Homo sapiens: one gene and its partners. The protein of the gene in region 1 interacts with the protein of each later gene in a biochemical or structural test. Each region holds a gene or a part of one and is shown in the gene's direction. Other genes may lie near its edges. The genes, in order: AURKA, IFI16, INCENP, AATF, PPP1CC, ARPC2 and OTUB1.

Evidence for each region.
Region 2: the proteins of AURKA (region 1) and IFI16 form a complex in vitro, tested with the Homo sapiens proteins (one study listed by BioGRID).
Region 3: the proteins of AURKA (region 1) and INCENP form a complex in vitro, tested with the Homo sapiens proteins (3 studies listed by BioGRID and IntAct, with this or other methods).
Region 4: the proteins of AURKA (region 1) and AATF form a complex in vitro, tested with the Homo sapiens proteins (one study listed by BioGRID).
Region 5: the proteins of AURKA (region 1) and PPP1CC form a complex in vitro, tested with the Homo sapiens proteins (one study listed by BioGRID).
Region 6: the proteins of AURKA (region 1) and ARPC2 form a complex in vitro, tested with the Homo sapiens proteins (one study listed by BioGRID).
Region 7: of the proteins of AURKA (region 1) and OTUB1, one has a biochemical effect on the other in vitro, tested with the Homo sapiens proteins (one study listed by BioGRID).

The regions. Positions count from the first base shown.
Region 1 is NC_000020.11:56,368,890-56,372,803, reverse strand, and holds the end of AURKA (aurora kinase A), read left to right. Parts: intron 1-2,144; coding exon 2,145-2,319; intron 2,320-2,463; coding exon 2,464-2,646; 3' UTR 2,647-3,414; downstream 3,415-3,914. UniProt on the Homo sapiens protein: Mitotic serine/threonine kinase that contributes to the regulation of cell cycle progression.
Region 2 is NC_000001.11:159,012,397-159,016,647, forward strand, and holds part of IFI16 (gamma-interferon-inducible protein 16), read left to right. Parts: intron 1-110; exon of another isoform or gene 111-1,084; intron 1,085-1,170; exon of another isoform or gene 1,171-1,654; intron 1,655-2,264; 5' UTR 2,265-2,272; coding exon of another isoform or gene 2,273-2,284; coding exon 2,285-2,549; intron 2,550-3,475; coding exon 3,476-3,591; intron 3,592-4,136; coding exon 4,137-4,251.
Region 3 is NC_000011.10:62,147,461-62,151,040, forward strand, and holds part of INCENP (inner centromere protein), read left to right. Parts: intron 1-1,015; coding exon 1,016-1,094; intron 1,095-1,278; coding exon 1,279-1,386; coding exon of another isoform or gene 1,387-1,419; intron 1,420-2,596; coding exon 2,597-2,747; intron 2,748-3,580. UniProt on the Homo sapiens protein: Component of the chromosomal passenger complex (CPC), a complex that acts as a key regulator of mitosis.
Region 4 is NC_000017.11:36,954,935-36,959,185, forward strand, and holds part of AATF (protein AATF), read left to right. Parts: intron 1-4,251. UniProt on the Homo sapiens protein: Part of the small subunit (SSU) processome, first precursor of the small eukaryotic ribosomal subunit.
Region 5 is NC_000012.12:110,722,536-110,726,642, reverse strand, and holds part of PPP1CC (serine/threonine-protein phosphatase PP1-gamma catalytic subunit), read left to right. Parts: intron 1-1,878; coding exon 1,879-1,983; intron 1,984-3,947; coding exon 3,948-4,107. UniProt on the Homo sapiens protein: Protein phosphatase that associates with over 200 regulatory proteins to form highly specific holoenzymes which dephosphorylate hundreds of biological targets.
Region 6 is NC_000002.12:218,244,526-218,248,423, forward strand, and holds part of ARPC2 (actin-related protein 2/3 complex subunit 2), read left to right. Parts: intron 1-894; coding exon 895-1,021; intron 1,022-1,300; exon of another isoform or gene 1,301-1,393; intron 1,394-3,898. UniProt on the Homo sapiens protein: Actin-binding component of the Arp2/3 complex, a multiprotein complex that mediates actin polymerization upon stimulation by nucleation-promoting factor (NPF).
Region 7 is NC_000011.10:63,989,438-63,993,688, forward strand, and holds part of OTUB1 (ubiquitin thioesterase OTUB1), read left to right. Parts: intron 1-4,251. UniProt on the Homo sapiens protein: Hydrolase that can specifically remove 'Lys-48'-linked conjugated ubiquitin from proteins and plays an important regulatory role at the level of protein turnover by preventing degradation.

The DNA.
Region 1 (3,914 bases):
TACTGTTTTAAATTTGAGTTTAAATAAGCTTTGAAACTTCACATGAAGTGGGGCATTTTAAAACATATATCTACCGATGAAGTTTTGTCAACTTTGGAGGAGGACTCAAATTATAGCCAAATGACTTAAAAATCAAGCTAGTTAAAAAAAAAGTATAGCCTAAAATAGAATATGAGGGAGAAAACCTTTGCTTTTGTTACAGAGCACTTCTAATTGTTCCAGCAATGCACTGAATCTGCTATTGCAGTCTTTTTTTTTTTTTTTTTTTTTAAACTGGTTGTCATTAGTGGGAGCTGTTATCTGGTGAGACAAACCAGAATAAAGACTTACAGGCTTCATGGAATCGCAGAGTTAAACTGTATCTTAACCGGTTGAATTGTGATAGAAAAGATGGCTTCTTGCTTTTTGAAAAGATTACTTACATAACCGATAGTCACTTCACTCCAAATCCCAGATGTTAATCATCATCATTTCCTGGTTATTGCCTCAGTTTGAGAACCCCCGATTCAGTCCGTCGGTGCTGATGGAGGGGTTAGATGACCAGAGTGGTAGCTTCTTAATCCTACGTCACAATTCAGTGGTGAGTGACTGTTTGTGTGCTCAGTGGGTGCCAGGCCTGGCTGAACACAGCACCAGGGCTGTGACCACGTAAGCCTCCATGGTGAAGAGCAGCTGATAACAAAGCAACACGAACCCACACAGACTGTTCTGGCTTGCTGTCTGCTGTTCCCAGCTTTTTTCCAACCTTCGTTAAAAAAACCTAAACCGATAAAAATGCGGAATTGGTAGTTGATGGCATACCTGTCTATACAGTGCCTACGTTCAGCAGTTTTTCCCATTTAGTCAGAAGGGCTGCATCTGCTTTTTTAGTGAACACTTGAAAATACGTTGCAAACATCATGATGCTTCAACCTTAAGCACTATAATAGAATGCATTTCCTAAATAAGGATATTCTCCTATATAACTAGAACCATGATCACTCCTAAGAAAATTAACAGCATTGTCAGTATCTAATATTTAGTCCACATTCAGATTTCTCCTATTGTCCATGACATCTTATAGCTGGTTTGTAAAATCAGAACTCAACCAAAGCCCATGCTTTGTATTGGACTGTCTATGTGGTTGGATTGTCTCTGTGGTTGGACTGTCTCTGTGGTTGGACTGTCTCTGTGGTTGGATTGTCTCTGTGGTCTAAAGCCAGACCAGTCTCCCACTTTAAAGAGGACTTTTCTGATTGTGTTGCCACTTAACTTGGACCTTTATTCCCCGTATTTGCTGAAAACTGGAATGTAGGTCTCAGGTCCTGAAGAGATTCAGGTTAAGAAAATTTTTTTTTTTTTTTGAGACAGAGTCTCGCTCTGTCACCCAGGCTGGAGTGCAGTGGTGCGATCTTGGCTCACTACAAGCTCGCCTCCCGGGTTCACGCCATTCTTCTGCCTCAGCCTCCTGAGTAGCTAGGACTACAGGCGCACACCACCACACCCGGCTAATTTTTTGTATTTTTAGTAGATACGGCGTTTCACCATGTTAGCCAGGATGGTCTCGATCTCCTGACCTCGTGATCCGCCTCCCTCGGCCTCCCAAAGTGCTGGCATTACAGGCATGAGCCACTGCACCCAGCCAGGTTAAATATTTTTGGCAAGAGTACTTCATAGGCCACCCTCAAAATTTCAGCATCACTCGTACCAAGTATCTATCACAAGGCAGCATGTGTCTACATCTCCACCCCAGTGCTGTTACAGTGGGACAGTTTCTAGTGTATTGTCATTGCGACCAGGCTTTTAAGATTCTTAGCATATCTGTAATATCCACATGCAGATGTAGAATCCAAATCGTATTTACAGAGAACTTTGCATGGCAGCTTTTATATGGTAGTGATACATTCAGTTTCTTACATTCTAGATTATTCAGGGAGGTTCTGGAGTTGGACAGATTTGGGGTTAAGCCTGATGGCTAGCTGTGTGACCTTACACACCTCGCTTCATCTGTTTCCTATGGGAATTTATAATAGTAGCTACTTCCTAGGGCACAGGATCTGGCCCAGGGGAAGACCTCAGTGTTAGTGGACTCTTTAATGATTGTTAGCAGCTGTTGTGATCATAAAACGAGAAGCACATCAACCTGAGCCTCCCTCCGTTTTCAGGAGGACCACTCTCTGTGGCACCCTGGACTACCTGCCCCCTGAAATGATTGAAGGTCGGATGCATGATGAGAAGGTGGATCTCTGGAGCCTTGGAGTTCTTTGCTATGAATTTTTAGTTGGGAAGCCTCCTTTTGAGGCAAACACATACCAAGAGACCTACAAAAGAATATCACGGGTAAGACGCAACTGAAAAGGACCCAGCACATCTGCTGGAATTCTTTCCTTATCAGCCTGAACTGCAGGCCAAGATCCGAACATCTATACTATTTGATCTCTCTAACCTGTGTTTTGTGATATTTTATCATTTGTTGTACTCCAGGTTGAATTCACATTCCCTGACTTTGTAACAGAGGGAGCCAGGGACCTCATTTCAAGACTGTTGAAGCATAATCCCAGCCAGAGGCCAATGCTCAGAGAAGTACTTGAACACCCCTGGATCACAGCAAATTCATCAAAACCATCAAATTGCCAAAACAAAGAATCAGCTAGCAAACAGTCTTAGGAATCGTGCAGGGGGAGAAATCCTTGAGCCAGGGCTGCCATATAACCTGACAGGAACATGCTACTGAAGTTTATTTTACCATTGACTGCTGCCCTCAATCTAGAACGCTACACAAGAAATATTTGTTTTACTCAGCAGGTGTGCCTTAACCTCCCTATTCAGAAAGCTCCACATCAATAAACATGACACTCTGAAGTGAAAGTAGCCACGAGAATTGTGCTACTTATACTGGTTCATAATCTGGAGGCAAGGTTCGACTGCAGCCGCCCCGTCAGCCTGTGCTAGGCATGGTGTCTTCACAGGAGGCAAATCCAGAGCCTGGCTGTGGGGAAAGTGACCACTCTGCCCTGACCCCGATCAGTTAAGGAGCTGTGCAATAACCTTCCTAGTACCTGAGTGAGTGTGTAACTTATTGGGTTGGCGAAGCCTGGTAAAGCTGTTGGAATGAGTATGTGATTCTTTTTAAGTATGAAAATAAAGATATATGTACAGACTTGTATTTTTTCTCTGGTGGCATTCCTTTAGGAATGCTGTGTGTCTGTCCGGCACCCCGGTAGGCCTGATTGGGTTTCTAGTCCTCCTTAACCACTTATCTCCCATATGAGAGTGTGAAAAATAGGAACACGTGCTCTACCTCCATTTAGGGATTTGCTTGGGATACAGAAGAGGCCATGTGTCTCAGAGCTGTTAAGGGCTTATTTTTTTAAAACATTGGAGTCATAGCATGTGTGTAAACTTTAAATATGCAAATAAATAAGTATCTATGTCTGTGTGGAGTGCTGTGTAATTCTTTCCACCATCTGTTCATTGTTGGCCTGGAAATGAGCAGGGGCTGAGAGGAGCAGGTCTCGCCCTCATCTAGTCCTGCCTCTTCTGGTCTCTCCTGTTGGGTGTACTCCTAATACTTCATTATATATATTGTTTATATATTTGTCATATCTTTGTCATCTGTCCATCGACTAAAGATACGGTGAAAGTGACTGTGATGAAGGAAAAGTAGAAGTGTTGAACTTAGAGCTAGTAGAGAAATCTGCTTGCATGGCCAATGCTCAGTGCAAGAAACTGGACAGCAGGTATGTCAGGATATGTCATAACAAAGTGGCCAATATAGAGAAACTTAAAAACATGACTCAGTAAAACTGCAGCTGCCAGCCCCCTTGGGACAAAGGGGCTTCTGGTTCTCATAGTCTTGAGCTGAACTGACTTTGACCTTCCCAAATAGTTCATGTGCCACCCTCCCAAGCTATAGTTATTATCACGTGACTGAC
Region 2 (4,251 bases), on another chromosome or scaffold:
AAACTCCATTGGGATATAAATAATTACTCCAAAATCAAAAGCACTAATATTGCAAAACAAAACATGTGAGTGTTCACATTTCAGTGAAATAAAGATTATACATAGCCTACTGTCATCCCAAATCTGGTTTTATTTTGCAAATAAATTGTGCTGTCACACTTGTTGGAAACAAGTGCTCAGTGCCACAAAGAAAAACCAGCACTTAAACAGGAAATTTCTCAGCAAAGCATATTTGCTTCTACAGAAGGGTGCTGCCTGCGTCAGTCACAATGCACATTCTAAGCTGACCGGATTGGCTACTGCTTTAAATTCTATAGGGGTAATTAGGCGGGAAGGAAGACACTGTCCTGTACCAATTAGGCGGGAAGGCATGTCTGGGGCGGCAAAGGAAGGAAGGGTTGTTTACAGAACAGGAAAGAACAGGAAAGTTTGAAGACGAACTTATTGTTTCTAGCACACTCACAAAATAAGTCAAAACTTTCCATTGAAAATTTTTTTTGGTTTTGCAATTGATATGGAACTTTGGACCAACATTATATAAAAATAACTCCATTGTCCTGCTTCAGGCAGTTTTGATATAGAGATTCACTTTCAATTTGATTCTTGAATCTTTGTAGGTGATCTATTCCTCATTACCGAAGGCTTACAGAGTATTTTTGTTCATTATATTCTTCAGTTTCACTATAATGTGTTTTTGTATAGATTTTCCCTTCATTCTCTGGACCTTTTCAGTCCAAGGATCCTCATGTTCTCGTAAGAAGGAAGCTTTTTTTTTTTTTTTTTTTTTTTTTTGACGGAGTCTCACTCTGTCACCCAGGCTGGAGTGTAGTGGCACGATCTCCGCTCACTGCAACCTCCGTCTCCTGGGTTCAAGCAATTCTCCTGCCTCAGCCTCCCGAGTAGCTGGGACTGCAAGCGCTTGCCACCACACCTGGCTAATTTTTGGTATTTTTAGTGGAAACGAGGTCTCACTGTGTTAGCCAGGATGCTTTTGATCTCCGGAACTTGTGATTCGACCACCTCGGCCTCCCAACATGCTGGAATTACAGGCGTGAGCCACTGCGCCTGGCCCAATTAATAGCCCCTGAAATTTAGATATCTTGGTTATACACAAAGACATCATTCCTAAAATTAAAAAATTCATTAATTTAAAAGTTTTGGAATCCATACCTTGCACTGTCATCATGGAAGTGTACAGGTGTTAAGAGGTCAAGAGCAGTGACACTCTGTCCATAGGGAGACTCTGAAATCTACCATGAGACAAAGCCTCAGTTGAGTCTTAAGGTTGTATGGGAAGTAGTCAAAGAAAGAAATGTGGGAATGGCTTTCCAGGCAGTAAGAAGGAACTAGCAAAGTCATGAGGCATGAAGACACAAGGTGTCCGGCATCTTTGTGAAGCATAGATACAAGGAGTACAAAGGTACTAGAAGTAAAAAAGATGCAGCTTATTCAACACTTTCTGAGACAGTATAGGAAGCAAGGAATTTTGGGGAAGAAAAAGGAGAAATATTGAAGGATTTCAGTGGAATATAAATGTGGCTTATCGAGAGAAAACTGATTGTGCGAAAAGAAATAATTAGACAAATCAAGTCTGAAAGAAGAAAAATAAAACAACCAATAAAATCATTTCAGTGAATAAATACTGTGATGCTGCACTAGAAAGCATGCAGATTTTCAGCAAAGTTATGGTTTTATGGGTACAGAGAACAGAAGCCATGGTCTAGCACCAAAGAAGGGAGGATGCTAATGAAAGCCAACTAGGGAAGAGTCAAGGAGAATAGGGTCAGTGCCACAGCATGAAACTGTAGCGCTGTAGCAGAAAGTTATTCATATAAGGTGGGAGGCTGCAGCCCATTTACACCTAGGCCGCTCCAGTCATACTGGGTGTGGGAAGATTTAAGAAACAACAGGCAGGATTTGGGGAATAGGCTTCAGCCCCAGTAAAGGATAAGAAGAGGAACCAAGGGCTTTGACACTGCAGAGCTCATACTCTTAACACTGAGGCAATTGCTTGTTCTCAGACCTCCCTCTAACAACTGGACCCAACTCAACTATTCTCATTCAATGGGAATAATTTCTTAGACATTCCTAACCCAGCAGTTCTTCACTCAATTTCTACAGTAACACATTTGGTCGTTGAGTCCTTCTTTATCACACATATTCATGAACAACTCTTTCATATGGGCCACTCACTCACATAGGCATACATCTTTTAAATTGTCTGTATACATGTGTAACACTGTATATACCATTTTCTCTTGTAGGCTCACTTATGTCTGTAAAGATGGGAAAAAAATACAAGAACATTGTTCTACTAAAAGGATTAGAGGTCATCAATGATTATCATTTTAGAATGGTTAAGTCCTTACTGAGCAACGATTTAAAACTTAATTTAAAAATGAGAGAAGAGTATGACAAAATTCAGATTGCTGACTTGATGGAAGAAAAGTTCCGAGGTGATGCTGGTTTGGGCAAACTAATAAAAATTTTCGAAGATATACCAACGCTTGAAGACCTGGCTGAAACTCTTAAAAAAGAAAAGTTAAAAGGTAATTGGGAAGAGGGAACACCCACTCCCTGCAACCATCCCCAAACCCTCCCCAACATTGATTAGAGCCCCACCTCGGACATACTTGAGATGTGTTTTCCCCAGTTTGTGACTCAACAGCTGAGACAATGTTGGTACTTCAGAGGCCAACAAGTTGACAACTTAGTGCATTCCATTACTGGTGTAGATTGAAGTATTTCAGAATGTATATTTGGGATCAGTGAAAGAACAAAAGTGAGAGGGAGTTGAAGGGGGACTGAGACTTCCAGTACATTAGAAAGATTATATAATAATAAAATCATAAAAACTGTTTAAATTCAAGATATGTACATTTAGCCAATGAATGTATCTGTTCTATTGAGACCATTTAACCCATCACTACCCTTTATAATTTAAAAAAATGCAATACTTACATGTGAGCCTGCCTCTCAGAAGTGTGATCTCCTCTCTTGTTATATCAAGTTAAAAAAAAGGATTTGAAAAAGTCTAAGTCCAAAATCAGTATATCCTTCCTCATGGAAACCTTTGGCTGGTTTCTATAATTTGAATATCTTTACCTGGGGAATGTGACCTAGCAGTCTCCATCATGAAAACATTAGTTTTTAAAACAAAATGATCGGAGAACCGCATTGGGAAAGGGTTAACTGAAGCACATGGAGTTCAGAGAACAGGAAGCATGTGCTCAGTGCACAGGGGAGGAGTGAGGAAAGTGCTGAGGAGCATGAGTCAGTGCTTGTTCCTGTCTTGTGACTGCTGGTCTCCTTAAGGCCAGGCTGGGCTAATGCAGTAGAGCTAGACTAAAGCACAGCTGAACCCTCAAGCAGGAACTGAGAGCAAATTGTATTGAAACTGCTTCAGCTGTCGGAGATCGTTTATATGTCTTCCTTTTTTCTGCATTGGTTGGGAATAAAATTGAATCTATTCCAGTAAAAGGACCAGCCCTATCAAGAAAGAGGAAGAAGGAAGTGGATGCTACTTCACCTGCACCCTCCACAAGCAGCACTGTCAAAACTGAAGGAGCAGAGGCAACTCCTGGAGCTCAGGTAAGCTTCAGGAAGAGGAGCAGGCTTCAAGTCCCACAGAGGAAGCTCTGCTACGGCTCTTCCACTCAATCTCTCCAGCAGGCAGTTATTTCTTCATGTTTCCCATCAAGTTTCAGATTTACCAAATTGTATGATAATTGATCATCTTATTGATGCTCAAAGCAATGCACCAAACACATGAGTAAACATAATGTAAATATATATAACATAAATGTGATACCTTCATTCTAGTAGAGTGGAGTGTCAACGTGAGAATCAGGTAAGTACTTTGTCCATGTGTATAAAAACCTAGTTTCTCTAATCCCAAGTCAGCACATCCCATAACAGAAATAATTAGAGAAATAATGTGTATAACATTCTCCTCTTTCTTCGTTTAATGAAACCATCTATGCCCATCTCTTAAACTGGCGAGAGATGGGCAGCAACCTCTCAAGTTTCCAAGAAACATCTTCTTAGGAATAATAAAACTACTATCCAATAATGAAAATGTGCTCTACTTCATTTGGCACTGAAAACGAATAACAGGAAAATCAAACCACTTTCAGAAAAGAAAAAAATCAACCAAAGAAAAGGCTGGACCCAAAGGGAGTAAGGTGTCCGAGGAACAGACTCAGCCTCCCTCTCCTGCAGGAGCCGGCATGTCCACAGCCATGGGCCGTT
Region 3 (3,580 bases), on another chromosome or scaffold:
CCCTGGCCTACCCTGTGCCTGGTTGTTCTGAGAGTCGTGGGGTTGCCAAGGAGGAAAAGCCACACTCACTGTTGGTCAGGAGATACATGGGATCCTGTGTCTGTGTGCACAGAAGTAGAGCACAAGGCCCGTGTGTGTGAGACATGCAGGCCCCGTAGCTGTTCCCTCTCCCGCTCTACCTCCTGGGAAACACCGGGCAGCACGTTTTTTCCGTGTCCATCTTCGTGGGTGGCTTCAGGTTTATCAGATAAGTGAAGAGTCACAGCCAGGGGGCTGCACTGAGTCAGGGCTGCTTGATGGGGACAAAGCTGTCCTTGGTCCTCTGGGCAGAGTCTGGGAAGGCGAGAAGGCGTAGGGTGTAGCTAATGTGCAGGGTGCTGGGCAGAGCAGGGGGCTTTGAGGGTGGCGGTGTGATAGTCATAGTGTCGGCAGCTTTGGTGGGTACCCGAGCTGCATGCTTTACACCTGTTTCCTTGTTTAGTCCTCAGTTGAAGCCCATGGTGGCATGGGAGCCATCAGCTCCACTTCACACAGGGGGAAACAGGTCCAGAGAGGTTAAATGACATGTTCAAAGTCATGAGCCAGTGTGTTGTGGAGGTGACTCCAGAACTCATCCACAGCCTCTTGTTCATGCTTGGAGCCAGTGTCTGCCCTGAAGGTTAGGATAAAAAGGGGTATTGTGGATTATCCCATTTGATTCTCATGTTGACCCTGGAGGAAATGTGTTATGGTCTCCATTGTATAAAAGTGTTATGAGGCTCAGAGACCCAAGTTACAAGGAAAAGTGGGGGCCAAATGTTGGGCTCCAGCTTGTGTTCCCTGCACCCTCAGGTGTGCACACTTCTAGCCCCGGGGCAAAAGCGCAGCTCTTGGCTCTAAGCTGGTTGCCCATTCAGCAATCCCACTTTCTAAGGTGTGTCCTACTGGCTGGGCCTGGTTTCCCCAGCAGGGATGGGAACAGGGCTTGGGCTGGGCCTCCACTTCCTGTCCTAACAGGCTCTTGCTGGGTCCTCAGGGAGCTGCAGGAGCGGGAGAAGGCCCTGCGGCTGCAGAAGGAGCAGCTGCAGAGGGAACTGGAGGAGAAGAAGAAGAAGGTGAGGGGAGCTGGGTTGCGGGCTCCCCTGGGGTCTGCCCTGAGCTGTGGGCGGGTCTGGACTCCTGCAGCAGGGGCTGCCTAGGGAGGGGAGGGAAAGGGAGGAGAATGGAGCGGAGGGAAGGGGAGGGGAGGGAAGGGCACCTGCACAGCTCCCTAACACCCCATTGCCACCTGGGTTCCAGGAAGAGCAGCAGCGTCTGGCTGAGCGGCAGCTGCAGGAGGAGCAAGAGAAGAAAGCCAAGGAGGCAGCAGGGGCCAGCAAGGCCCTGAATGTGACTGTGGACGTGCAGGTGCCACCTGGGCCCCAGTGGAGAGGCTCTCAGGTGGAGGGGCCCACTCTATTCTCTTCCCAGTAGCTAGAGGCACAGGCTGTGTTAGGCCCCTAAGGAAAAGGACAGATACACTTGGCCCAATTGTTTTTACTTCTTTTTATATTCTTTGTTATTCTAAAAGTAGAATTTGTTGAGGTGGGGGATAAAAAGGAACTAAACTTTATAGAAGAGTATACAGTTTTAAAAAAAGGGACCCTCAGGAAAACTCTACTAAGCGCGTTGTATATCCTTCTAGATTTTTACTTATGTAACCCTTTTAACACACACACAGATATCCTCTCTCTCTCTCTCTCTCTTTCACCCATACACATACATATTTAAAATGGGCACATACCATTTGGTGGCTTGATTTCCAGGCCCCCAACCCCCATGGTTTTTTTTCACTTAGTATATTATAGACATCTGTCTATTTCAACACAGGTCAATTTCTTAGTTTTGATGGCTGTGTACCTTAATTGTGCTGGAATTCAGCCGGCTCCTCTTGATGAGCATTTGATCTATTTTCACTTCACTGCTGTTACCAAACAAAACAATGTTTTCATTGCAGCATTGTTAAGATGTGGAAAACTTGGAAGTTAGTATGGTATCTGTCAATGATGGATGGTTACGTTGCAAATCCTGGAGTCTCCTTAGTGGTTCCCAGGAGGATTCTAGACACACTGACCTGGAAGAAAGTTTGCAATACACCTTAGCATCAAAAAAGGAGATACAGAGTCGTGTGTGTTCTGTGACTTTTTAAAATTAAAAAGTAGGCCTGGTGCAGTGGTTCTCGCCTGTAATCCCAGCATATTGGGAGGCCAAGGGGACAGATTACTTGAGGTCAGGAGTTCGAGACCAGCCTGGTCAACATAGTGAAACCCAGTCTCTACTAAACATACAAAAAATTGGCCGGGTGTGGTGGTGCACACCTGTAATCCAGCTACTTGGGAAAGCTGAGGCATGAGAATCTCTTGAACCTGGGAGGCGGAGGTTGCAGTGAGCCGAGATCACACCACTGCACTCCAGCCTGGGCGACAGTGAGATTCTGTCTCAAAAAAAAAGAAAAAGTGATCCTGCACCTTTTGTTTCTCCTGTGAAATAGGAGGAGGTGAGCAGTGCCCCAGCACTCCTCGGTGGTGAGAGATGGGAATGCCATGGAGGGAACTGACGGCCACGTTTGTTTTTGCAGTCTCCAGCTTGTACCTCATATCAGATGACTCCGCAAGGGCACAGGGCCCCTCCCAAGATCAACCCAGATAACTACGGGATGGATCTGAATAGCGACGACTCCACCGATGATGAGGCCCATCCCCGGAAGCCCATCCCCACCTGGGCCCGAGGTAAGCAAAGCCCACAGCTCCCTGGGAGACTCAGGCCCTCCCTGGTCCTCACCTTGAGGGCCCTGGAAGTAGTGGGTTGGCTGCTGCGGTGTTGGGAGGCTGCCGTGTGCTTCAGTTGGCAGTTCGAGGCTCTAGCCTTGGGTATGCATGTGCCCTGGGGAGTGTGGGGCACCCTGTGGTCATTGTGCTTTCCTGAGGACCAGACCTATGAGGTTGGGTTCCTTTGTTCTCAACAAATATATGAAATTGTGCTGGGCTTGGGCATGGCATATGCTGCTGGGTGTCCTGACTTGGACTAGGCCCTTCCTTAGAGTCCCATCCAGCAGGGCTGAAGAGACTTGGACCTAAGTAAGCCACCTGGGGCAGAGGCAGAGCTAGAATGGGGAAGGGTTTAGGCAGAACACCAAGCTGGAGCCTGGGGCTTCCAGCCAGCTCGGGGAGGCAGGAAAGTCCTTGAGGAGTGCATGAGGCACTTGAGCAGGATCTGACCTGGAGTTTACAGGCCCCAGCATTAAACCAGAATGTGGGTGAGCGTGACTGCAATGTCTCAGGCCTGAGTGCAAGGCCAGCTTGAGTGAGCAGGGTAGGTGCTAGAAGTGGGTGCTGCCAGAGTGGATGGGGCCCGTGGGTACCATGGGTGCCTTGCAGTGGTTGCTGAGCCGGAAGTCAGGGAGGGGTGCAGACGCCCCAGAGGGAAGGGCCTGGAATCCCATAGCTGGTAGGCACACTACAGAAACTTGTTTTTGTGAGTTTCACCTCATCTGAACCCTACAGTAACTGGCATGTGCTTTAAGCCTCTTAACTACTAGTGTCAAGTCATTTGGGAGATGGCA
Region 4 (4,251 bases), on another chromosome or scaffold:
AGAGTCCTCATGAAAGAGATATCTATATCCATAGATATAGATATATATGTATAGATTATGTATCTATCTCTCTATATATATATTTGGGAGGCCTTGGCCTCCCAAAGTGTTGGGATTACAGGCATGAGCCTCTGCGCTCAGCTGAGATCAATATGTCTTACTTGCATGCTGAGACTTCATGTTTTCATTTGCTCTTTAAAACTTATTTTTTTAGTATCATGGAGTTAGAGTTGGAAGGGACCTGAGGAGGATATCTAATTTGGCATCTGCCTGTAGGTAGAACCGCCTTAAGACATTCAAGATCAATGTGTAGGATTTCCCAGGTAGGGAGTTCAGTGAACGTTTCTTGTAGGTGAATACCTGATGTAATTAGGAATGGCTTCCTAGAGTCCAGTTTTTGGGTTTTGTGTCCCGCCACACTTAAAGTCTGCTTCTTCCCCTGTGGGAAGTCTGGGCAGTCCTTCCCAGGAGCCTTACGTGGCCTGTGTGGGTGAGGTGGGCCATTTATATCCCCGCCCCTGTCTTTGCCTCCTTTCTCTCTCAAATAGATGACAGATTGATGGTTTTCAAGTTTTTTGAGATTTTTGGAGCACTTCTCTGCTATTTTTAGTGTCCTAGTACCCTAATTCCTGGTATGCCTTTGGAATGAGACCTAGACTGCTCTAGATTAAATGTTTTAAATGTTTCACGATAAGGCCTGTTTTCATTTTGTTACTCATTATTCTTTTTGCTTGAGCCTTTTTCATTTTAAAAAATTCATATTTAAATATAGATATTTTAGGGGTTAGTCAGTGTCCAGTATAATGGACACATATTCTTGGATACGATTTAATTTCTTTTTGTTATGAGACAGGGTCTTGCTCTGTTGCCCAGGCTGGAGTGCAGTAGCGTGATCATAGCTCGTTGCAGCTTCGAACTCTTGGGTTCAAGTGATCTTCCCGCCTCAGCCTCCTGAGTAGCTGGTACTACAGGCATGAGCCACCATGCCCGACTAATTTTTTCTTTTTTTGTGGAAATAGGGTCTCACTATGTTGACCAGGCTGGTCTCAAAACTCCTGGTTTCAAATGATCCTTCCGTGTCAGCCTCCCCAAAATGCTGGGATTACAGGTGTGAGCCACCATACTCAACTCATTTAGTGTCTTTAATCACTGCAGTGTTATTTAACTTTTATTTTGTTCTGATCTTTTTACTCTTTTTTGTACTTAACCAATTGCCTTTACCTCATTGATGAACCTCAATTAATCTGACAGCATCTATTAATCTGACAGGGTGGGTTGTGGTGGAGGAGGGAGAAGAAAGGAAGTTTGGTATCACATATTCTAAGGTGGGAGGGTAGGGAGTTTTCAAGTAATGAGCTGTGCATTTGAAGAGTAGCTAATTTTTCTTGTGGCAATATGACATAATATGTTGTATACTCCCCTGTCTTGATAAACAGACTTTAAGAAAAAAATTCTTGGCCGGGTGCAGTGGCTCACGCCTGTAATGCCAGCACTTTGGGAGGCCGAGGTGGGCTGATCACCTGAGGTCAGAAGTTTGAGCCCAGCCTGGCCAATGTGGTGAAACCCCGTCTCTACTGAAAATACAAAAATTAGCCAAGTGTGGTGGCAGGTGCCTGTAATCTCAGCTACTCGGGAGGCTGAGGCAGGAGAATTGCTTGAACCTGTGAGGCGGAGGCTGCAGCGAGCCAAGATTGTGCCATTGCACTCCAGCCTGGGCAACAAGAGTGAAACTCCGTCTCAAAAAAAAAAAAAAAGTTCTTGGCCGGGCACGGTGGCTCCCGCTTATAATCCCAGCACTTTGGGAGGCTGAGGCAGGCGGATCACTTTAGGTCAAGAGTTTGAGACCAGCCTAGCCAACGTGGTGAAATCCCATCTTTAATAAAAATAAAAATATTAGCCAGGTATGGTGGTACACACTTGTAGTCCCAGCTACTTGGGAGGTTGAGGCAGGAGAATCACTTGAACCCGGGAGCAAAGGTTGTAGTGAGCTGAGATCGTGCTAGTGCACTCTAGCCTGAGCGACAAGAGCGAAACTGTCCCCCCCGAAAAAAAAAAGAGAGAGAGAGAGAAAATTCTTGAGCACATTACTCTGGATGACCAATTTATTACTGTGCTGTATAGCTGGTGTGGAACATAGGCTGAATTTGTACCAACCCCAGAACAACCACTGGAACTTACTGTCTTTAATTAAATCTCTTTTCAATTTGCTTGGTCTTACAGAGTAGTTAAAGTCAGACCGGCTTGGTTTAGATTTCATCTCAGCAATGGATTAGCCATGTGACCTTGGGCAAGTTACTTAACTTCACAGTAAAATGGGGATAATATGGTTGTGAGGATTAAAGGACATAATCAATAGAAAGCATTAGCACAGTGTCTGGCACACATCTCACCATGAATGTTAGGTACTAATATTATCTTTTTCTGCTCAAAGAGGCATTTGGCAGTGTTCGACCATGTGAGCAATCACTCAATAGTTATCAGTGTAACTGAGCCTCACTAGTCTTCAGTGTTTTTTACTTTTTTATTAGTATTTGGATTCTTTATATAATTTAAATTAACTAATTGTTCTGGAAAGTGTTATAGTTTACTAATACTTACAATGCAGTGTTGGCCTCTTACGACGCTATGGAAAGATGGCTACAGATTTCCTTATTGCTATACCCAGCTACTACCTCCTTGAAGCGTTTAACTTTTCCTTGAAATACTTTTCTTTGGCTTGGTGACACTACCTGTGCTGTTTGGGTTCTCCTACCTTTCTGATCTCTTCTCTGGTTCCTTTTGTATCCTCTCAATGTAAATTTCATTCCGTTTAGAATCCTGTCCTCAGGTTGCGTTTTCTCAATATAGTCTCTCCTTGGCACTGTCACTTACTCTGATAACCCTAACTATTGCCTCTAAAATAACAGACTTCCAGCTGTATTCTAGCTCCAGTAAACTCCTGAGTACCATGCCTTTGTAGCTTCAGCACCCTAAACTCTACTTTTCAGAAACTAAATGAATATCTCCTTCCTCTCCACACACCACCCCAAACACGTAAACTTAGTCCCCAGTCACCTTGGTGTTACATGTTGGTAATTTAAACTTGAACTGTGGAAGTGATTTCAAAGACATCGTCTGATATTTTAGTGGCTGCATAAGTGGTAAGTCATGGAGTAATCTTAACAAAATTAAGGGATTTTCTGTGCACAAAACCATTTCTCTAAAAGGGTTTGCTTTTTCTCTCTTTCTTTTTTTTCTTTTTTTTTTGAGATGGAGTCTCTCTCTGTCACCCAGGCTGGAGTGCAGTGGTGCGATCTCAACTCACTGCAACTTCTGCCTCCCAGGTTCAAGCGATTCTCCTGTCTCTGCCTCCTGGGTAGCTGGGACTACAGGCGCATGCCACCACACCCGGCTAATTTTTGTAATTTTTTTTAGTAGAGATGGGGTTTCACCATGTTGGCCAGGCTGGTCCTAAACTCCTGATCTTGTGATCCACCCACCTTGGCCTCTCAAAGTGCTGGGCTTACAGGTATGAGCCACTGTGCCTGGCCTTCTCTCTTTTAGAATTTCTACTGTATTAGGAAATACATCTTTTATGTTGGTGGCAATGATATGTAAGGAAGAAGGGAAGTTACTTAAGGAAATCTCACCATGAGTTATTTAAAACTTTTCATTATGGGATATATCAAACTTATATAAAAGTAGAGAAATAGCACAGTGAACCCCCACATGCCTTCACCAGCTTAAGCAATAATCAATTCATGGTCAATCTTATTTCATCTGTAGTTGTACCAACTCTGCTCACCTTCTGGATTATTTTGAAGCAAATAATACACATTCTCTCATCAGTAAAATTTTCAGCATGTATGTTCAAAAGATAAGGATTTTAAAAAATTATACCATAATCTCATGTAAAAACATTAACAGTAATTTCTTAATAAACATAACTGGCCTGGTGTGGTGGCTCATGCCTGTAATCCTAGCACTTTGGGAGGCCAAGACAGGTGGATCACCTGAGGTCAGGAGTTCGAGGCCAACCTGACCAACATTATGAAACCCCGTCTCTACTGAAAATACAAAAAATTAGCTGGGTGTGGTGGCGGGCACCTGTAATTCCAGCTATTCAGGAGGCCAAACAGGAAAATCTCTTAAACTCGGGAGGTGGAGGTCGCAGTGAGGCGAGATTGCGCCACTGCACTCCAGCCTGGGCAACGAGCAAAACTCCGTCTCAAAAAAAACAAACATACAGACTGGGTGTGGTGGCTCATGCCT
Region 5 (4,107 bases), on another chromosome or scaffold:
TGGTGGTAGTAGTAGTAGTATTGCTGTTGGAAATGGGAGTTGGTGGTTTTTGGAGATTGCCCTTCAGCCTTTCGTAAGAAGGAGTTTGCTTTTTTTTGAGACGGAGTTTCACTCTTGTTGCCCATGCTGGAGTGCAATGGTGCGATCTTGGCTTACTGCAACCTCTGCCTCCCAGGTTCAAGCAATTTTCCTTCCTCAGCCTGGCGGGAGAAGTTTGTTAAACTTTCCGAACCCCCTAGTGAAGGACCTCTAAAGAAATATGCAACAGGGTGAACCATAGTCAGTGTTAGACCCAGTCATTGAGAAACCAGAAATTATTAGGAGAAAAGATAACACTCCTCTGCAGAGAGAAGGCAAACATTTGTTGAATTTACATTTCATTTCAAGCCCTGTGGTAAACTCCCTAAGCTGCTTGATTTGCATTACAGGGTGGGAGGTGTGGTTCAGGTCAGTTGCTTGGGCTGGCTCTAACTCTCAAAGGAGAGGTATAGGTTTAAACCTTTAGATGTCCCTGTATTCCCCAGGAAAAGAGACTAAGGACAAACTCTTGGTTTGTTTTGTTTGTTTTGTTTTGTTTTTTGAGACGGAGTTTCGCTCTTGTTGCCCAAGCCGGAGTGCAATGGCACAATCAAGGCTCACCGCAACCTCCGCCTCCCAGGTTCAAGTGACTCTTCTGCCTTAGCCTCCCAAGTAGCTGGGATTACAGGCATGCGCCACCACGCCCAGCTAATTTTTATATTTTTAGTAGAGACGGGATTTCTTCATGTTGGTCAGGCTGGTCTCAAACTCCCAACCTCAGATGGTCTGCCCGCCTCGGCCTCCCAAAGTGCTGGGATTACAGGTGTGAGCCACCGCGCCTGGCCAAACTCCTGGTTTTTAAAGATTGTGCTTAGTATAGTAAGTACAGGAAACAAAGGCATCTGGACAATTGGACAATCCTCAACCAATCCAGAGAAATTTGTTCTTGCAAGGTATGTGACTAGGTTTTAAACTCAGAACATCAGTTTCCTGTAGAAACAGTGCATAGAGGCATATTTCTGTCAGAACTGCACTCTGACTCCAGAATGTGTGGATGCCTGTGCTGTTGAGGGAACATGACCATCCTGTGACATCAGGCCTGTGGGAGCATGTGGAGTCTGTGCAGTGTTGGAAACAAATGCCCTGTAGTGCCTGTGAGAGGCAGCCACTGCCGTGTGATCATTGTGCCTCCTGCTAGAGTACTGAGGGCTGGGGATCCTCTGGTGTCAGTAGGTTATTGAGGGGCATATATGGGGGATGGGTGCTAACTCTCAGGTTTCCTCAGAAGGAAGGTCATAACGCCACATGTGTAAGTTCGTAATTGAATTCAGAAGTAGGGGACTAGCTGCGGTGAGATTGGACAGAGCAGACAATTTCAAACAGAATTGATGCTCCCAGATAATTCCTGGGATTTGATGGCAGTCCTTAATCATTATCAAATCTGGAATTCTGGTTTCATGCTTCTGTGGAATTTAAAAAGATTTCATGTGAAAATGTAAGTCATTGCTTTTAGATCAGATATGTGTCTCTCCTAAACCCCTTCCCTCTAGGAGAGTCTTTCTTTAAAGAGATGGGGTCTCACTATGTTGCCCAAGATGGTCTTGAACTCCTGGGCTCAAGCCATCCTCCTACCTCAGCCTCCCGAAGTGCTGGGATTACAGGTCTGACCCACCACGCCCAGCTCTTATTTTAAAAGAGCCTTAAAATAAGATGGTTTTATTAAGATTCTTAATAAAAACATAGTTTCATTTGCTTAAAAGGCACCCAGAATCTTGCTTTGGGGGAAGTTAATCCTGAGAGAATGAGCCTACGGAACAGTAATACTCTCTTTTTAATGTAATACTCTCTTTTTAATCACAGGTAAAAGAAGATACAACATTAAACTATGGAAAACTTTCACAGACTGTTTTAACTGTTTACCGATAGCAGCCATCGTGGATGAGAAGATATTCTGCTGTCATGGAGGTAGGTGGGCTGATTTTTGTTCCAAATAGGTTTTGATCCCTTCCAAAGGGTGAACACTTTAACATTTGTGAGTTATCATTGGGATGACTTTCTCTGACAGAACACTCTCCTTTGTTGATGTGTTGCATTGCACTTTCACTCTGATACAGCCAGGATCATTTGGATAAAAATCTTAAGGAATTGATTTATTACAGGGAATTCTAGACTCTGTAAGCTAGGTTTGAAAATAGAGCAGAAAATTTTTATTTTTATTTTATTTTTTGTAAGGATGAGTTCTCACCACGTTGCCCAGTCTGGTCACAAATTCCTGGGCTCAAGCAGTCCTCCTGCCTCGGACTTCCAAAGTGCTGGGTTACAGGTGTAAGCCACTGTGCCCGGCTTAGAAAAGTTTTTGGTTTTTTTTGTTTTTGTTTTTGTTTTTTGAGACAGAGTCTCGCTCTCTCACCCAGGCTGGAGCGCAGTGGCACCATCTCGGCTCACTGCAAGCTCTGCCTCCCAGGTTCACGCCATTCTCCTGCCTCAGCCTCCTGAGTAGCTGGGACTGCAGCCACCCGCCACCACGCTTGGCTAATTTTTTGTATTTTTAGTAGAGACGGGGCTTCACCGTGTTAGCCAGGATGGTCTCAATCTCCTGACCTCGTGATCTGCCCGCCTCGGCCTCCCAAAGTGCTGGGATTACAGACTTGAGCCACCACGCCCGGCAGAAGAGTGTTTTTAACTATAAAATGAACAATGTGTAATTTGTTGTGCCAGAGATCCTCTAGAACACTCAAGATGTGAGTAGATTTTCCCTTGATTGTTTTTTATCCTCTCAGAACTTTCTCTGACTTGGATTTTAAAAGTTATTTTGGCCAGGCATAGTGGCTCGCATCTGTAATTCCAGCACTTTGGAGAGGCCAAGCCAGGAGGATTGCTTGATGCCATGAATATGAGAACAGCCTATAACATATCGAGACCCCTGTCATTAGAAAAAGTTGTAAAAGTTAGCCAGGTGTAATGGTGCACACCTGTAGCCGTAGCTATTTGGGAGGCTGAGGCGGGAGGATCGCTTGAACCCAGGGGTTTAAGGCTGCAGTGAGCTATGATCGCACCACTGCACTCCAGCCTAGGCAACAGAGCAAGACCCTATCTCTGAAAATATATACATATATATGTTATAAGCTGTTTTGCTTTGCTCAGTGGTTGTGCTTTCTATAATGTAATTAAAATAGTAATTGCAAAGAGAATTTCTTTTCCTGTATGGTCTGAAATTAATCAGCCATCAAAAAGCCTGCATAATGTCTTTTATCTCTGTGCTTCTGTACTTAGGTTTTGGTAGAGTTGGATACATGGTTTTTAACTCTTACAATATGCATCCCATATTGTAACTCGATACAATAAGCTCTTGTAGATTTTAGCCATCAAAAAGCCTGCATAATGTCTTTTATCTCTGTGCTTCTGTACTTAGGTTTTGGTAGAGTTGGATACATGGTTTTTAACTCTTACAATATGCATCCCATATTGTAACTCGATACAATAAGCTCTTGTAGATTTTAATGGTCTGTGAACAGTGCAGGTTTCCTAGAGAACTACCTCACACTGAGCATCCTTATCTTCTCAGCTCAGTCATTATAAGCCATCAATCATAACATCGCTCATTATTGTCATCAACTGGGGGAAGCCCATAGAAGAGTTTTTTAAATCACTGGATTTTATTTTACAGTGTTCTGTATAATATAATTGTTTCCATGTACTGTTTAAACCTACTGCACCCCATGCATTACTGCATGTAATTCTAGTGTGTATCCAGTTGTCCTTTTTCTGTGTTTTTTTCTTTTAACCAAAAGTAAATAAAATATAATCATAGATTTCAGTTTTTATGTCAGGATTATTGAATTTCTCTGTAGACAAATGGAACTTTTGAAGGGGTAGTATCCTTTTAAAAGTTCTGCTTTCTTCATTTTTTTTTTTTCCTCATTGAATAGGTTTATCACCAGATCTTCAATCTATGGAGCAGATTCGGCGAATTATGCGACCAACTGATGTACCAGATCAAGGTCTTCTTTGTGATCTTTTGTGGTCTGACCCCGATAAAGATGTCTTAGGCTGGGGTGAAAATGACAGAGGAGTGTCCTTCACATTTGG
Region 6 (3,898 bases), on another chromosome or scaffold:
GATTTGAACTCATAACCTGGTAGGGGAGCCAGATACATTAATGAATGGTAAAATATCATAGTAGAGGTTTGTAGAAAAGACATGGCAGCTCCAGCAAGAGAGCAGTACCTGCCTGGGTTTGTTGGAGATGGTATTAGGAGGCAGTATTTGAGCAGCAGTAGAAGGGCACGCAGGCCACATGGCTGTGTAACCATGCCTTCAGAACTCCTAAAACAAGAGACCTTGGAGAGTCCTTGGCAGCATCCTCCTGCTGTCTATCATCTTGGAAGGCCCACTTGATGAATTTGGATTATCCAGTTTTACTGGCATTGCTAGAAAATCTACTTCTGTTCTTGCAGATCTGGCTGAGAGAGAGAAGCCTTGTATTACTTGTCTATTTACATAGGAATGTATGGACTGTAGAAGCTTCAGGTTTGGAGATTGGAACATAGAAGGAAGGGCTTCCTTTATGAGCACCAAGACAACTCAGCTTCTTTCATTCCATTGTCTTCTGTCCGCAAGAAGAGCTTAAGTTTGCTCTAAAGATTTTATTGATGAATTCTAAATAGCAACAGGATCCTCAGTGAAAAAAGACTCATGCAAAGTCCCAGAGCCCAGAGAAAGTATGGTAGTTTATCACCTATGTTAGTGCAAAGGAAAAGGATTATCACTACTTTTCATCACATTTTGAAGATCTGACTTATTAAGTACTTTGCAGTCTCTCCCGTTTGAATCTGAAGTGTAGTGGTAGCAGCTAGCACTTGTCATATTTCAGGTTTGGTGTAGTTTATTTTTAACCTCCTGCTGGTCTGGAGGGCTACAAAGGTCACACCACATAGAACAAACCCTATAGCTTGAGTTGCCACTCATCTTACACCCACTTCTCTTCTGGTTGCTTTTGCTTTGTCTTGGCAGGAGTTCAAAGAAGGACGCAGAGCCAGCCACACAGCCCCACAGGTCCTCTTTAGCCACAGGGAACCTCCTCTGGAGCTGAAAGACACAGACGCCGCTGTGGGTGACAACATTGGCTACATTACCTTTGGTGAGCAGGGTGCACTTGCTGCTTTTGTGCCGCTTTAATGAGTTCACACAGCAGAATACCTAAATCTGCACAGAACCTTGGTTAACATTTTAAGGTAGGCAAACGCAGGCATACCAACTTGTTCCTGTTGCCATTGCAGTGACTAAAGGAGGGATGTCACAGGGTATTAATTACAGAGCAGGCCATATGCTATTTTTGTACAGTAATCCTTTCCTTTTTTTCCCCATTTTTCTTAAATCTTAAAAATAAGACTGAATTCTGATATCAAGAGTTAAGGTCCCTTCAATAGTTCAGCTGGTAGAGCAGAGGACTATAGCTACTTCCTCAGTAGGAGACGTCCTTAGGTTGCTGGTTCGATTCCAGCTTGAAGGAGACAAGTACAGTTTTGGCTGGGCACGGTGGTTCATGGCTGTAATCACAGCACTTTGGGAGGTTAAGGCAGGTGGATCACGAGGTCAGGAGATCAAGATCATCCTGGCCAATGTGGTGAAACTCTGTCTCTACTAAAATACAAAAAAAAATTAGCTGGGCATGGTGGCGCACGTCTGTAGTCCCAGGTACTCCAGAGGCTGAGGCAGGAGAATTGCTTGAACCCGGGAGGTGGAGGTTGTAATGAGCTGAGATCGTGCCACTGGACTCCAGCCTGGGCAACAGAACAAGACTCTTGTCTCCAAAAAAAAAAAAAAAGAGTTGAGGCTGGGTGCGGTGTCTCACGCCTGTAATCCTAGCACTGTGGGAGGCCAACATGGGCAGATCACCTGAGGTCAGGAGTTCGAGACCAGCCTGACCAACATGGTGAAACACTCCGTCTCTACCAAAAAAATAACAAAGAAATTAGCTGGGCGTGGTGGTGTGCGCCTGTAATCCCAGCTACTCGGGAGGCTGAGGCACAAGAATCCCTTGGACCCAGGAGGCGGAGGTTGCAGTGAGCTGAGATCACACCATTGCACTCCAGCCTGGATGACAGAGTGAGACCTTGTCTCAAAAAGAAAAAAGAAAAGAGTAAAGGATAGGCGGGGCACAGTGGCTCATACCTGTAATCCCAGCACTTTGGGAGTCCGAGGTTGGTGGGTCACTTGGGTCCAGGAGTTTGGGACCAGCCTGGATAACATGGTGCAGGCTCATCTCTACAAAAAGCAAGGGGCCAGGCACAGTGGCTCACACCTGTAATCCCAGCACTTTAAGAGGCCAAGGCGAGCAGATCACTTGAGGTCAGAAGTTCGAGACCAACCTGGCCAACATGGTGAAACCACACCTCTACTAAAAATACAAAAATTAGTTGGACATGGTGACATGTGCCTATAGTCTATAGTCCCAGCTACTCGGGCAAGCGAGGCATGGCAATTGCTTAAACCCAGAAAGTGGAGGTTGCAGCAAGCCGAGATCATCCTGCTGCGCTCCAGCCTGGGAGACTGTCTCAAAAAAAAAGATAACTAGGCATGGTGGTGCATGACTGTAGTCATAGCTACTTGAGAGGCTGAGGTGAGAGGATCACTTGAACCCAGGAGGTAGAGGCTGCAGTGAGCTGTGATGGCACCACTACACTCCAGCCTGGGTGGCAGAGTGAGACCCTATCTCACCAAAAAAAGGAGTTAAGAAGAGAACCACCTAAGCAGCTAGATGGGGGTTCTCTGTCATTTGGCAATTCTTGGTTTTTTGCTTATTAAGCCCAAGCTCCAGCCGTGATCCACTTACTCCACTTTTTCGCGGAATAAATTCAGGTCTTCCTTCAGTTGCTCCAGCCTCATGCACTGGCTGATTATGATAGCTTACAGTTTGGAATTAATAAGCTTGTTCACACTGCACCCAATGCCACTGGAATGTCTCCTTTGTGAAATGTAATTTAATTCACCTCAGTGGTAAAGGTGAACCTGTTTATTGGTGATGAATCTGTTGATTTACCAAATTTCATTAAATCTAAACTATACACTTTTTTCTTTTTTCTTTCTCTCTGTCACCCAGGCTGGAGTGCAGTGGTGTGATCTCGGCTCACTGCAACCTCTGCTTCCCAGGCTCAAACAATTCTCGTGCCTCAGCTTCCCAGGTAGCTGGGACCACAGGCGTGTGCCACCACACCCGGCTAATTTTTGTATTTTCAGTAGAAACAGGGTTTCCAGCTGGGCACGGTGGCTCACGCCTGTAATCCCAGCACTTTGGGAGGCCGAGGCAAGTGGATCACGATGTCAGGAGATCGAGACCATCCTGGCTAACACAGTGAAACCCCATCTCTACAAAAAATACAAAAACTTAGCTGGGCGTGGTGGTGGGTGCCTGTAGTCCCAGCTACCCTGAAGGCTGAGGCAGGAGAATGGCGTGAACCTGGGAGGCGGAGCTTGCAATAGGCCAAGATCACGCGACTGCACTCCAGCCTGGGCGACAGAACAAGACTCCGTCTCAAAAAAAATTAAAAAAAAAAAAAAGAAACAGGGTTTCCATGTTGGCCAGGCTGATCTCAACTCCTGGCCTCAAGCAATCCACTCACTTCAGCCTCCCAAAGTGCTGGGATTACAGGCGTGTGCCACTGCGCCCAGCCAGCTATACCATTTTTTTCAAGTTTTTGTCTTTGAAGCTGGGATGCATCTTACAATTCATAGCATGTCACACTTTAATTGGCAGCATGTTTCTCTTGTGGTACATAAAATTATGGCAGACTTACAGTCATAAGCACCTTAGATTCTTTGAAGTATAGTTGTCTTCTGTTGTGGTGTTCATTTACTTTCAGGCCAGGGCACATTGACACAGAAATTCCACACTTCCTTAGGAGGCATTCCTTTTCATTTCAACGAAAACTTCAGACAACTGACGGGGTTTTGCAGATAGTGAGTAGAGGAGGTGCAGCAGGTAAAAACGATTCCAGAAAACCAGGGCAAGAGGGGC
Region 7 (4,251 bases), on another chromosome or scaffold:
ATCTTCTGGCCGGGCACGGTGGCTCACGCCTGTAATCCCAGCACTTTGGGAGGTTGAGGCGGGCAGATCACCTGAGGTCAGGAGTTCGAGACCAGCCTGGTCAACATGGCGAAACCCCATCTGTACTAAAAATACAAAAATTAGCTGGGAGTGGTGGTGCGCGCGTGTAGTTCCAGCTATTGGGAAGGCTGAGGCAGGAGAATTGCTTGCATCTGGGAGGCGGAGGTTGCAGTGAGGCAAGATCCCGCACTGTACTCTAGCCTGAGCGACGGAGTAAGACTCCGTCTCAAAAAAAAAAAAAAAAAAGGCCTGGCGCGGTGGCTTACACTTGTAATCCCAGCACTTTGGCAGGCTGAGGCGGGCGGATCACGAGGTCAGGAGATCGAGACCACGGTGAAACCCCGTCTCTACTAAAAATACAAAAAAATTAGCCAGGCGTGGTGGTGGGCACCTGTAGTCCCAGCTACTCGGAGAGGCTGAGGCAGGAGAATGGTGTGAACCCGGGAGGCGGAGGTTGCAGTGAGCCGAGATCGCGCTACTGCACTCCAGCCTGGGCGACAGAGTGAGACTCCGTCTCAAAAAAAAAAAAAAAGCATCTTCCCATAGGGCGATTGTGAGATTGAGGGAGGTGCAGGCTGGGCAGGAGCTGATGATCTCGGTGCCCATACGGGGGCTGACCAGGCTGGTGCTCAGTGGGGTAGGAGGGTTGCCAGAGGGCTGTTTCCCACAGCTTGCCTCCTGGATCTTTGTGGAGAGGCAGGCAGCAGTGGGGTCAAGGGGCCACAGATTTCCTCAAAGGGCCCTGCTGCATCACTCAAACGGAGGCAAACTTCACCACCCACTTTCTAGGTCTGTGAGCTGGGAGGATGACATGTGAAATGGGGCCAGGCATGGTGGCTCAAGCCTGGAATCCTAGCACTTTGGGAGGCTGAGGCCAGAGGATCGCTTGAGCCCAGGAGTTCAAGACCAACCCAGGCAACATAGTGAGACCTTGTCTCTCCAAATCAAAAAATTACTGGGTGTGGTAGCACATGTCTATAGTCCCAGCTACTCAAGAGGCTGCGGTTGGAGGATCACTTGAGCCCAAGAAGTTGAGCCATGATTGTACCACTGCACTCCAGCCTGGGTGACAGTGAGACCTGTCTCTTAAAAAAATAAAAAAATAAATAAATAAATAAATAAATAAATGTGACAATGGGTGTGTGGAAACAGTATCTGGTAGGCTCAGTGTAGGTGTTTAGTAAATGTTTCTCTTCCCCTGGAAGATGACAGATGCTTAGAGTCCTCTACTGGTAGGGGAGGCCTCTGTGGCCAGGTAGGTAACCCAGGTGATTGAAGGTGGCCAGGAAGTCAGATGGTGAACAAGGAGGGCAGCACAGCTCAGTATCAGCCAGACACTAATAGGGAGCAGAGGCCCCTGGGGGAAATGGGAGTGTCCATACCATTGTCTCCAGATCTGTTTTTCCAAGAGAAGCCAGAGGTAACCACAGCTCCTGACTTCTAACAGTTGGCAGCTAATTCAAATTTTAAATGTGTGGGCCAAACACACCTGCAGGCCAGATCCAGCTGTGTGAGATCTGTGCACTGTGATCTACTGAGGCCCCCTCCTCAGGGAGCTAGATTTCCTCAGGGTGCCTGTGGAGAGATGAAGGCACTGGCTGTGGAGCCTGATGGGCCTGGGTTCCAGTCCTGGCCTCACCACTTTGAGCTGTGTGATCTCGGGCAACACCCTGAAGCTCTTGGATCCCCTGTTCTCTCTGGGCGGGGACATTGTCTGCCTCACAGGGCAATTGTGAGGGTTGAAGGAGATGTTACGGGCGGTTGTAAGCAGCGGGTTACAAAGCTGCTCCTCTCCCCATACAGGGGGTGAGCTTCATTCATTCATTCCTCTTATGTCAGTGTCCTCCAGTGGGACCCCCCATGCCAAGGCCTGCCGCTCATGCTAGACCACCCTGGTAAAGTGGACAGGACAGGCTGGGCCCCAGGTTCTTCCCACGGAGTCATCAAACATTTGGATGTCCAGAGCATGCTGTCTAAAAGGCCTCTCTGTGCCCCCAGCACCCGCATTCTGTATGCTGTGCCTGAGCCCACCTTTTCTCCCTGGGCAGAGACAGCTGTGGCAGCAGAGCCCAAGCAGAGAGAGCTCCTCTCTCTCTAAATGGGCTCTTGTGAGGATCAATTAGGATGACGTTTATTCGCCCTGTGCCAAATCCCTGGCACAGAGAGTGTGCTCACAATGGCCATGGTGGCTGCTACAGTAGCAGTGGTGATTTGGGTTCTTTGTGGTCCTGGTGTGCTACTCATTTAACGTTTATTGAGAACGGACTGTGGTCCAGGCGCTGTTCTAGGTACTGAAGATAGAGCCATGCAGACAAAGTCCTGCCCTCACAAAACTTACAGTTCAGGGTGGAAAGACATGATAAGCCAAAGAGGGCTCTGGGACATGTGGGGTATCAGAAGGCGGTGAGTGCTGTGGAGAAAAATGAAAAGGGGATCGGGGCCGGGCGTGGTGGCTCACGCCTGTAATCCCAGCACACTGGGAGGCTGAGGCAGGTGGATCACCTGAGGTCAGGAGTTCGAGACCAGCATGACTAACATGGTGAAACCTCGTCTCTACTAAAAATACAAAATTAGCCGGGTGTGGTGGCGCATCCCTGTAATCCCAGCTACTTAGGCTGAGGCAGCAGAATCTCTTGAACCTGGGAAGTGGAGGTTGCGGTGAGCCGAGATTGTGCCACTGCACTCCAGCCTGAGTGACCAGAGCAAAACTCCACCTCAAAAAAAAAAAAGAGGGGATTGGGAGTGGGAGCATTTGCCATTTTAAACAGGGCTTGGTGAAGGCCTTGCTGATGAGGTGGTATTTGAGTAATGAACAGAAAAAGACCGGGGAGCGAGTCACAGGCGTCCGAGAGCAGTGCCCACCCAGGCCCGAGGCGAGAGGGCACCTGGATGGTTTGAGGCCAGCATGGAGGCCAGTGTGGCTGGTGGAGAATGAGGGGTTGGGGCTGGGGAACTGAGCGGGGCGGGGCGGGGTGGGGTGTTGTGGCGAGAGAAAGGACTCTGAGGGAGATGGAGATAGGGTGCATCTGGCAGGTGACTCTGGTCACTTTTCTTTTTTTTTGAGAGAGAGTGTTGCCCTGTCACCCAGGCTGGAGTGCACTGGAGTGCAATGGCACCATCTCAGCTCACTGCAACCTCCACCTCCCGGGTTCAAGCAATTCTCCTGCCTCAGCCTCCTGAGTAGCTGGGATTACAGATGCTCGCCACCATGCCTGGCTAATTTTTGTATTTTTAGTAGAGGTGGGGTTTCACCATATTGGCTAGGCTGGTCTTGAACTCCTGACCTCAAATGATCCACCCACTTTGGCCTCCCAAAGTGCTGGGATTACAGATGCCCACCACCATGCCTGGCTAATTTTTGTATTTTTAGTAGAGGCGGGGTTTCACCATATTGGCTAGGCTGGTCTTGAACTCCTGACCTCAAATGATCCACCCACTTTGGCCTCCCAAAGTGCTGGGATTACAGGCCTGGGCCATCACGCCAAGCCGACCCTGGCCATTCTCTTGCTGGGGTGAGAATAAACTCCAGAGGGTGAAGGGGAGGCAGGGACACTGCCAGGAGACTTGTGCAGTAAAATCTGCTGGAGGCGGGCAGCGGGTGGTAGAGGTGAGGAGTAAGAAGCAGTTGGATACCAGACATATTGAAGGGATGGATATGGTGATGGAGTCGGCAGCGACTGGAAGGCTTTGGGTGCTGTGGGTGACTGAGGTGGGGCAGCCTCGGGGAGGAGCAGTTGTTCGGAGGTTGATCTCAGCTGCACTCAGTGGAAATGCCTGTTGGACAGTTCAGAGGAGGTGTGGTGAGGCTGGTAGATAGGAGGATCGTAATTGGAGTTGAGAGTTGAGATTCACACTTGGGGCTATTTAAATCCTTGAGACTTTGGCTAGGGGCAATGGCTCATGCCTGTAATCCTAGCACTTTGGGAGGCCAAGGTGGGTGGATCACTTGAGGGCAGGAGTTCAAAACCAGCCTGGCCAACATGGTGAAACCCCATCTCTACTAAAAATACAAAAAAATTAGCCGGGCATAGTGGCGCGCGCCTGTAGTCCCAGCTACTCAGGAGGCTGAGACAGGAGAATTGCTTGAACCCGGAAGGCGGAGGTTGCAGTGAACCGAGATCGCGCTACTGCACTCCAGCCTGGACGACAGAGCGAGACTGTCTCAAAAAAAAAAAAAAAAAATTGCTTGAG